2 separate regions of the Homo sapiens genome follow, and region 2 is linked to region 1. Evidence: fine-mapped expression QTL. Tissue or cell type: whole blood. Region 1 holds a variant in brackets; the other region holds the start of a gene. All regions are shown on one strand. Distances are between the middles of the regions.

What was found. PIP is the estimated chance that this variant, and not a neighbour inherited with it, causes the effect.
Region 2: ADGRA2 starts here. The variant in region 1 is fine-mapped to the expression of ADGRA2 in whole blood (TOPMed, PIP above 0.99).

What each region holds. Positions count from the first base shown.
Region 1 is chr8:37,757,696-37,763,054 of GRCh38, forward strand. ERLIN2 (ER lipid raft associated 2) reads left to right here. Exons shown (of 12, transcript NM_007175.8): 12 at 1-727. It overlaps PLPBP (pyridoxal phosphate binding protein), which reads left to right and starts at 4,950. Exons shown (of 8, transcript NM_007198.4): 1 at 4,950-5,063. The coding sequence starts at 4,965. LOC124901934 (a long non-coding RNA gene) reads right to left here. Exons shown (of 2, transcript XR_007060889.1): 1 at 5,232-5,359; 2 at 1-5,118. RefSeq lists enhancers at 4,499-4,578, 4,679-5,138, 4,716-5,010, 5,319-5,359 and a silencer at 4,638-4,958. The variant A/G (reference allele first, on the strand shown) is at 2,688.
Region 2 is chr8:37,793,893-37,799,218 of GRCh38, forward strand. It overlaps ADGRA2 (adhesion G protein-coupled receptor A2), which reads left to right and starts at 2,991. Exons shown (of 19, transcript NM_032777.10): 1 at 2,991-3,642. The coding sequence starts at 3,377. RefSeq lists enhancers at 1,421-1,986, 1,987-2,552 and silencers at 2,816-3,055, 3,066-3,235, 3,516-3,605.

The sequences.
Region 1 (5,359 bases):
GCAATAGTTAATATTAGGTGACATAAATAAAACATCCCAGACTAGTGAGTTAAGTACAAGATCTCTCTAAAAATAAACAGATGAAAATCTATCCCCATTATCGATACAGAATTTGTGAACGTGGCATAATTCTTGGTAGGTGCTATAGAGATTTATCATTTTAAACAGTTCACACACCACTGCAATTCTGCTCCAAAGGACAAAGATATTTTCAAGTGAACCAAAATTCATTTTGATATCAGTTCAGTGGACGAACTCCCAGTCTTTACTCTGGAAAGCTGCCCAGCTTAGGGTTGCCAGATAAAACATAAGATACCTAGTTAAATATGAATTTCAACAATGTACAATTTTTAGTCTAAGTACTATGTGTCCTAAACACTGCATGAGACATACTCATACCAAAGTATTTGTTGCTTATGTGTAATTCATATTTAACTGGGTATCCTGTATTTTTACTTGTTAAGTCCGGCAACCCTAGCCCAGGCTTTCTCAGGTTTTTTTTAACAGGGATCCCAAGCTTTTTCTATTGGTTTGAGAGCCTGCTACACAAATAATATGATCTTAACAATTGAATAGTTATGTTAAGAGTGTAGTTACTGCAGTTAGACTGCCAAAGTTCAAATCACTGCTCTACTACTTCTTAGGTGTGTGGTCTTGAATAAGTTTTTTGACCTCTCTAAGCCTCAGTTTCTTCATTAATAAAATGAGTTGCATGGCTTATATGAAATAATGCATACGAAGGGCTTTCACACTGTACCTTGCATGTATGTATTCAAAAACTTCAATCTGGAGAAACGGGCTAAAAAACATACAGCTATTAAATGGGAGCCACTAAGTAGAAAGCCAAACACGTGAAAAAAAATGGAATAAGATTACAAATGGGATAGCACATAGAAGAAGGGAATGACATTGCAATGCAGCAAACACAGTATTGAGGATACATACCTCTACAAAAATGTTGTGTAGAAAATAACCTGGTTTAAAGAAAGAAAAGAAAAGAAAAGAAGCCAGGCACGGTGGTTCACACCTGTAATCCTAGCACTTTGGGAGGCTGAGGTGGGTGGATCACCTGAGGTCGGGAGTTCAAGACCAGCCTGACCAACATAGAGAAACCCCATCTCGACTAAAAATAGAAAATTAACCGGGCATGGTGGTGCATGCCTGAAATCCCAGCTACTTGGGAGGCTAAGGCAGGAGAATCACTTGAACCTGGGAGGTAGAGGATGCAGTGAGCCAAAATCACGCCACTGCACTCCAGCCTGGGCAACAAGAGCAAAACTCTATCTCCAAAAAAAAGAAAAGAATCTGATTTGGCCCTGTTGAGAGGAACTGTCCAGTTCTGGTCTCCAATTTTAAAAATGAAAAAAATTTGAAGAAGCTAGAAAGAAAATGTTAAAACCAAAAAGAAAAAAAAAGTAATTAAGAAATAAAGCTCATAGGTTGATGCCAGAAAAGGCAGAAGGGACATTTAATGACTTCACGATTATAAAAGTTACATACTGGTAGCTAAAAAGAGGAAATTCACTTGAATAAAGGAGGATTTGTAAAGAATTTACTTAAGATCAGGCTTGCTAAATTTTCAAATGGGGAGGAGTAGTTACTTGCAAATAGAAAATAAATATTCTTCTCTGATGGTCTTCAGAAATTGTGAAGACTCTGTGCTGTTTGGGATGGTTTAAATGTCATTCTTTCTGTATGAAACCTCCCTAAGTCTTCCCTAGGTCTAGGGTTCTACTATCTCTATAGACATTTCAAAGGCCAGATGTGATGGCATGTGTGCCAAGGGCTTGCTGTCATGGGCTACTCTACCTGAATTCATTTAAACTGGGATGGGACATGGGCATTATTTCTCCGTTTCTCTTTAGAGCTAAGTAACCAGGCAACAGTAATTTTCTATTTTACTTTTTACTTTTTTATCCCCCTAAAAGACTCACAGTAGGCTCAGAAGGAAACAATTTTTAAATCCATATATGTTTTTCTCATAATTTGGATTTATTCCAGACTATGAGGGTGTTTTAAAAGCTTGATGGCATTGATGGTGAATAAGTATACTAGATTTTAGATTATTTATAAAATCTGTTTCTCTGGGCATTTGGCTTTTTAATCTTTCTCTTTTCCCCTTGGTCCTTGCAAATTATTGGAGCAATTTAAAGACAATTACTGGTGATGAAATGATTTTGGACTTGTATTTTTCAAGGATTAGGTAGTAGGGGAGGATGAAAGGTTAAATTGGATGGTTGATGTCCCAGGAAGAGGAAGAGAAGAAATTAAAAAAGCAAATAAGGAAAAAAAGGGACAAAGTGAAATAAAATTAATTCAAAAGTACAACTAAGAAGAAATTGGAATGTGAAATGACCATGGGACTGGGGGCACCATGATCTTTTTGTCTCCATTTCCATTTTCATAAGACCACAGAATGTCAGAGATGAAAAGCGAGCATATTGGAAGTAAATCGGCAGTAAAGCCTGTCTTACTCAGCCTGGTCTCTCTCAGGGTTCTTTACAGAGTAACGCCTCAGTAAATGTTCACTGAATGGATAAGGGGGTGGGAGGATGACCTTGCCTTGTAGTTCAAAGAATAGAGGTCCCTGGCTGGGCACGGTGGCCCACGACTGTAATCCCAGCACTTTGGGAGGCCGAGGCGGGTGGATCACAAGGTCAGGAGTTCGAGACCAACCTGGCTAACAT[A/G]GTGAAACCCCATCTGTACTAAAAATACAAAAATTAGGCGGGCGTGGTGATGCACGCCTGTAGTCCCAGCTACTCGGGAGGCTCAGGCAGGAGAATCACTTGCACCCAGGAGGCAGAGGTTGCAGTGAGCCGAGATCGCGTCACTGCACTCCAGCTTGAGTGACAGAGCAAGACTTCGTCTCAAAAAACACAAAAAAGAATAGAGGCCCAATCTAGTAAATGAAGCTACAACTACTTGTTGTCATAGTGACGTAACACCTGGATTATACATTCCCTAGATCTGTGAGGTATTTATGGTTTTAAAATGTTTTCCAAATAGCACATTATTTGAAGTGTTTCATCTCACCCAATCCTTCCTCTACACATCCCATCACCATGATCCCCTCTGTCCTCCCCATCACTCACTGCTGGCTCGCTCCTTCCCACCTGTGTCTCTACAGCAAGCATCTATTATGCTCACACCACAAAGGGCCATTCTGGTCATTTTAAATTTTTTTATCATTTTGGTTGGAGTACAGATGTATCAAGTCTAGAGACATTTTATCTGAACACAATTACTCCTAATGTTGGCAGTCCTAGTTTGCAGATAACCCAGTTAATGTGTACCAGGGTAAATGACCAGAGACTTCCCAAAAAGAAGTCCCTTATTTTAAGGATCTGAGGTTCTGCCTAATGTGACTTTCCCAGAGCAGAAGATGTGAAATTCCATCTCTGTTCCTGGGAGTCTGGGGAAAAACTGTGAGAGGAGAGAGTAAGAATATTGCCCCTTCTTTCCGGAAAGCTCTAATAAACCCCATCACCTCAAGACAAGACCACCTGAAGAACAAACATTAGCCATTTCTCTAATATAATAGCATCCCACTTCATTAAGTTGAATTAATGTTTGAGAAACTTTCAACAGAAATTGCAGCCAAGAGTGCTTTCCTTAACAAAATTGATCTCCTTCTCCTTGCCCGTAGCACCTACTATTTCACCACCTGACTATGTAGCATTCTGTATTATTATTTGTATGGCCTGGCTCCTCATCAAGTTTATAACCATATTGCCCACAGAAGGGGACTCAAGAATCAAACTCAGGGCGTTGTGGTGCCCGTTTGTAGTCCCAGCTATTCTGTGAGGCGGAGGTGGGAGGATTGCTTGGGCCCACGAGTCCCAGATAATCTGGGCAACATAGCGAGACCCCATCTCAAAAAAAGAATCTAACTGAATGTGCTGAGCTCCTGCTAGACCATCTAAAGCTGCCTGTGGGCTGGGCGCGGTGGCTCGCACCTGTAGTCCCAGCTACTGGGGAGGCTGAGGCAGGAGAATCGCTTGAACCCGGGAGGTGGAGGTTGCAGTGAGCCCAGATCGGGCCACCGCACTCCAGCCTGGGTGACAGAGCGAGACTGTCTCAATAATAATAATAGTAATAATCATGCTGCCTGTGTCCCCTGATGAGACAGCACTGGCCGCAGGTGGCCGCTAACCTCTCGAAATAGGGATGGCCCGAATTGAGACATATGCAAGTCAACACTACACCGGGTTTCAGAAACACATACGATTTTCAAAAGAATTAAAATATCGCATTTAGTTTTTCTATTGATTGCATGTTGAAATCTTACTTTGGATATATTGGATTAAATAAAGTATATCATTAAAATTTTTAAGCTTATGTGCCTATGAGAAACTTCCAAATTACACAGTTGGATGGCGTTATATTTCTCTTGGACAGCAGTGGTCTGAAAGATGACAAAAATCACGATACGTTTGAATCACGCCATGTCTTTAGGGAAAAGAAGAAAGAAGAGTTTCCTTTCGTATCGCTTAGGGGTTCCTCGCAAGAACCATCTGACAGAGAAAAGCCCTGGCTCCCGCCCCAGTGGCTTCTAATTCTGGTCCCCGCGCCCAGAAAGCCGGGAACGGGCAAGCCTGGAAAGGCGTTTTGAAAGGAAACAGGATCCCCCGAGTATAGGATGCGTTTCTGCCTCACAAAAGTCCCTTGGGGGTGGGGGGACGGCAGCGGCTGAGGCGCAGGAAAGAGGAGAGCACACGGGGAGTGGCCCTTGGAACCAGGCGCGCAAAACCTCAGCCCCTAGGCTCCATTTCCAGGTTCGCGGGTGACCTCCCCAAGATGGCCGCCGCCTGGGGGCGGGCCTCCACGCTGCACGGGTGTTGATTGGGTGAGACGACTCAATGATGAGCAATGATTGGTTCACACGGCGCAAGCTGGGCGGAACCGGAAGATGGTGTGAGCCACGGGCTGCCGGGGGCCTGGGGCTCGGCGTCGGTCCCCGGGGGATGTGGAGAGCTGGCAGCATGTCGGCCGAGCTGGGAGTCGGGTGCGCATTGCGGGCGGTGAACGAGCGCGTGCAGCAGGCTGTGGCGCGGCGGCCGCGGGTGAGGAAGGAGGCTGCGTGGGGACGGTGGGCGGCCGCCTTGAGAAGAGGGACACCTGCGTGGGAATGGGTCGTCACGGTGACGCAGAGGGGTCTCCCAGAGAGGCGGGACTGGTCGGCCGCCTAGGGCCACCGAAAGGCTAGCGAAGGGTTTCCCCAGCCTCCTTACCTTGAGTCTGTTAGGTTTTCTGGAGATTGGCTTCGTTGGAGCAGAGGGTACCGCTACCTCGGGAAAATGACTTAGTGCCTAGGTGTCGTGGCCACTTGCGCACCGCGTCGTTTCGGGGTCGATAGCCT
Region 2 (5,326 bases), 36 kb after region 1:
CTCTGAGGAGAGGTCTGCAGGAAGCTTCCCAGGGGAAAGTCTCCCTGTGGCTCAGAGAAGAAAGCACTTAAAAAGGAACCATGGCCGGGCACGGTATACTAGAAATAAGAAGAAAAAAGGATTAAAACATGCTCATGGCAGGTTGCGGTGGCTCACTCCTATAATCCCAGAACTTTGGGAGGCCAAGGCGAGTGGATCACCTGAGGTCAGGAGTTTGAGACCAGCCTGGCCAATATGGTGAAACCCTGTCTCTCCTAAAAATACAAAAATTAGCCAGGCATGGTGGCAGGCGCCTGTAATCCCAGCTACTTGGGAGGCTGTGACAGGAGAATCACTTGAACCCAGGAGGTAGAGGTTGCAGTGAGCTGAGATTGTGCCACTGCACTCCAGCATGGGTGACAGAGCTAGACTCCATCACAAACAAACAAACAAACAAACAGACAAACATGCTCATGGCCAGGCATGGTGGCTCACACCTGTAATCCCAGCACTTTGGGAGGCCAAGTCAGGCAGATTGCTGGAGTCCAGGAGTTTGAGACCAGCCTGGGCAACATGGCGAGATCCCCATCTCTACAAAACATTAAAAAAAATTAGTTGCATGCAATAACAAACCTGTAGTTCCAGCTACTTGGGAGGCGGAGGTGGGAGGATTGAACCCAGGAGATCGAGGCTGCCGTGTTCCTGCCACTGCACTCCAGCCTGGGTGACAGAGAGAGACCTTGTCTCACACATACACAAAAAAAGGAATCAGAAAGTAAGTTCCTACCCTTGGACTCTAGTCTCAGTGACTCAGTTTCTTCATCCATACTTGCAAAATAAGAAAGTAACCTCCACTTCATCACCTCCCTGGGTGGGTAAGAAGTCAAATGTGGTGACCCTCAGGACAGTCCAGTGTTTTGTAGATGTCTCCATCAGACATTTCATTCCTAGTGGTGGGGAAGCCTCGCCTCATTAAATGTCCTTTGGCCTCTGTTCAGCCTCCAGGAGTGGGTGTTCCAGTAGAATTCTTCTTTAGACTTTGAGTGTCTTCATTTAGCCAAAGGAAATCACAGAAAAGCTATATGACCCAGGCCAGAGATCTCAGAGTCTTCCTTGCCTGTGAGCAGGAGGGCTGCACAGCCCTGCCTATGGGCTGTGGCTCTGCTGTCAGCTCTTTCCTGAGGAATGCAGCCTGGGCCACCGCCTGTGAGGGCTCCTGCTGGGGGAGTCCATTCCCCTTCTCCCTTCCTCCATTTGCAATCACTATTTATTTATCTTTGGAAGTTCAAGGAACCAGAGAGCCTGCAACTGGGGGAGATCTGTGGAGCCAGGGAGGGAAAGTGAAGAAGCCAACATCTAGGCCCCTGCCTGCCGCCAACGCCAACGGGCAAGAGAAGAAAGCCATTCCCTGCATAGTCAGGGTAGACTTGGCTGACAGGCACAGGGGCCCTAGAAAAGGCACCACCGCACATCAGCAGGGCTAAGCTCACTAAAGAATGTGGCATTCACCTTGGGGACCGCTTGGGTGGTAGAGTGAAGGAGGGGGAACGGGAGTCCTGCCCCATCCCGGCAGCTCTATTAAGCAACAGAAAGGTGAGCTTCTGTGGGGAAACAGAGGAAGCAGACCCCTGGGCTGCACTTCTTACTGCCTGTCCCCAGCCCTGGTTCCGGTGTACTGCAGGCTGTTTTTTTTTTAATTAATTTATTTATTTATTGAGACGGAGTCTCACTTTGTCACCAGGCTGCAGTGCAGTGGCACGCTCTCAGCTCACTGCAACCTCCGCCTCCTGGGTTCAAGCAATTCTCGTGCCTCAGCCTCCCAAGTAGCTGGGATTACAGGCGCCCACCACGACGCCCGGATAATTTTTGTATATTTAGTACAGACAGGGTTTCATCATTTTGGCCAGGTGGATCTCAAACTCCTCACCTCAAGTGATCCGCCCGCCTCGGCCTCGAAAAGTGCTGGGATTACAGGTGTCAGCCACCGCGCCCGGCCTGCAGGCAGCTTTATACCCACCACTAGTTGTCAAGGTCACCCCTGCCACCACCAGTCCTCTGCCTTTGGAAACCATGTGCCCCTCCCCCCCACCACACTCTCTTATTCTAATGCCACGATTTACTGGGCATCTAATGCCACTCTATAAACTGGGGAGCAGGCAGAGCCCCATTTCAACCCCAGAGATCTGCTACCCCAGCAAGCTAGGGGCTGTGTCCAAGGTCAGACAGTAATGAGAGGCAGAGCCGAGTCTGGAATAGGGGTCTCCAGACTCACTGCGCAGTGCTCTTTCCACACCCTGCTGCAAAGCCCTGCTCCTTCTCATCTACTTTTCCCTTGTCCCACTCACTGTCCCCGAAACACACACACACACACACACACACACACACACAGCGTTGTGGAAAATGTAGGAGGCCCAGTCTAGCCTCTAGCCTTGTCTGCCTTGGCCTTTGACCTCTCCTTGGCCGAATGACATGCACCCCCCGCTGAGCGAGGTCACCGCAGCGGAGGAGGGTCTGCTGCCTCCTTGTCTCGGCTGCCATCCTCCTGCGGCTGCCTCCACCGGAGCTGGAAGGAGAGTGAGAGCCGACTTCCAGACTGATCATCGTGTCAGGGGCCAAAGGAAACCTCGGAGCCTTCCACCAAGTTCAACCCAAAACAGGGCGCCCCAGACGTCTCTGTCCAAGCCCGCGGGTCCAGGAGGGCCCCAGCAGCCTGGAGACGCAAGCTGCACCGGCACGGACGAGGGAAATTTTGTGGAAGGTGGTGGTGGTCGGCTCAGAGGTCTGAGATGGGTTGCGGAAAGGAAGGGTCCTGGCCCGGGGCGCGGGGACAAGCGGGAGAGGAGTGTTGGTGCAGGGCGGGCGCGGGGACGCAGGGTCCTCGAACCAGCTGGCCCGCCCCCACTCGGCAGAGGGTCTAGGCCTGGCCGCGTGTCGGTCGGCGCTAGGGCCCCGCGGAAGGCCCGGGCGGGCGGGGACCGGCGGCGGGAGCGGCGCGGCGCGGAGCTGCCTCCATCCATGGCACGGAGCGGCGGCGGCGGCGGCAGCAGGAGCCCGGCGCGATCCGCTAGGTCCCAGCCCAGCGCCCAGCGAGCAGGCGACGCGGAGGGGCCGGGCCTCCAGTGTCCCGAGGGCCGGGCGCTGAGACTCCGGCCGCGCAGCTGGGAGCTGCCCGCGCTGCGCTGACAGCCGCGCCGACGTCCTCCCCGCCGGGGCGCTCGCAGGACATGCCCCCGGGGCGCGGCGGCGGGGACCCCGGGGCTCGCCTCCGCCCAGGGCCCCCCTCCACGCCCTCGGGAGCCCCGGGCCCCCGCTGAGCACTCCTCCCGCACGCCTGGGTCCCTCCGGCCGGCGCGCAGCCCGGCCCCAGCGCTGTGGGTCCCCGCGGGGCGATGGGTTGATGGGCGCCGGGGGACGCAGGATGCGGGGGGCGCCCGCGCGCCTGCTGCTGCCGCTGCTGCCGTGGCTCCTGCTGCTCCTGGCGCCCGAGGCTCGGGGCGCGCCCGGCTGCCCGCTATCCATCCGCAGCTGCAAGTGCTCGGGGGAGCGGCCCAAGGGGCTGAGCGGCGGCGTCCCTGGCCCGGCTCGGCGGAGGGTGGTGTGCAGCGGCGGGGACCTCCCGGAGCCTCCCGAGCCCGGCCTTCTGCCTAACGGCACCGTTACCCTGTGAGTACCCTACCAGGCCAGTTCCGTCCGAGCCGGGACTGGGGACGAAGGGAGGCGAGACGGGAGGGGTGGGAGCAGGGGGAAGGGGGCTATCCCCCCACTTCAGAGATTTCTGGACAGGCCTGGGTTCAGGCCCCCAGAGGGGAAGATTGGAGGAGCAGGGGAGAGACTGGGGCTCCAGGAGCGTGGAGGCGGGAAGGGGCTGCGGGGGACAGGCGCACCCCAGAGAAAGGCACCGCAGGCGCCCACTCACCTGCACAGGTGAAGTGGAGAGCACGCCTGCAGGGCACCCACGCCCCGGATTTCCAGCCTGGACTAGGGTTGCGGACTTTGGGGACCTGAGAAGGGTGAGAGCGGGGAATGCTCAGGAAAGATCGACGCTCGTGGCCCAGGAGGGGGCTGTGGTCCTAACCACTACGGTCGCGTCCCGGACTGGGCTGGAGGAGTCTCCGGATTTACCTGGCTGGCCTTGTCCCTTCAATTGGGGTCATCCCATCCTTGCCCCCTGGCCTGCCAGCGCCGCTTCCAGCCGGTCTCCTTAGGGCAAGGGGAGGCTGGGCTCAGAAAAGTCGGCCCTTGGAATACCGGCGCTCCTGGGCTGCAGGAGACCCTGGCGTCCCCATCCCTCTAGAGGCCCCTCTCCCACGGCGCCGTTTGTGCAGTGAGCTCTGTGCTGGGTCCCGCGTCCTTGCCTCTCCTTTGCCTCTCCTGGAAGTAACTCGAGCTTTGGCTGTTTCTCCATTGACTTCGCGCAAAGATTGCGAAGAAAGAAACGCGGCTGGGGAAGCGGGGTTCCCTCACCGCAGCCCACCCGGGCCTCCTTCCGCGACTTCCCTCTTAGTCAGGGCCTCAGTACGCCTTTGCTTTGCTGGCAGCGAGCGCTGCAGCGCCGCAGCCCGACCCCAAGCCTCCTACAAGGGGGTCGCAAGTCCCAGCAGCCGCGCGAGCATTGGCGACCCCTCCCCACCGCAGAGATTTCCTGCGCCGACCACGTGCTCGCAGCTCCACGCACGCCGTGGATTTGAGGGTCGGGCCCCCGCGGCCGCCGCTTCCTTTCCTGTCCCAAATCCAGCCTAAGAGCCGCTTCCCTTTCCCTGTCCTCCTGACCCCAGTGGCAACCGTTTCTCCACCGCCCCTTGCCCGCAGTCGGGGCTGGCCCAGTCTTTTCGATTGTGTCCAGAACAATACAGTAACGCCTCTGGTTGGGTGAGTTCAGAGGCTGCCCGCTTCCTGACAGGACACAACTGGTCAGCCTCTGACGCTGGCCGCCCGGCCTGCATTTTCCCCGGCCCGGGTGTGTGTGTGCATGTGTGTGCCTTAAGGGTGGAGGCGGTGTGTCTGCTCGCTGCCGCCTCCCTGCTGCTCAGGGTAAGGCTGTGGCCAGGGAAGGCACCTGTGGCTGTTCAGGGCAGCTCTCTCTGACTGTCCGCTGGGGTTTGAGGGTCCAGGCAGGCCTGGGCATTCCCCAGCTCACTTAGTTCTGGAGGAGAAAAATGCTTGCTCTGCGGAACAGTCGGTAGCGTCTGCGTGAGTCCCAGCTGCATAAGAATTCAGAGCTGAGGCCGGGTGCGGTGGCTCAGGCCTGTAATCCCAGCACTTTGAGAGGCAGAGGCGGGTGGATCACGAGGTCAGGAGTTCGAGACCAGCCTGACCAACATAGTGAAACCCCGTCTCTACTAAAAAT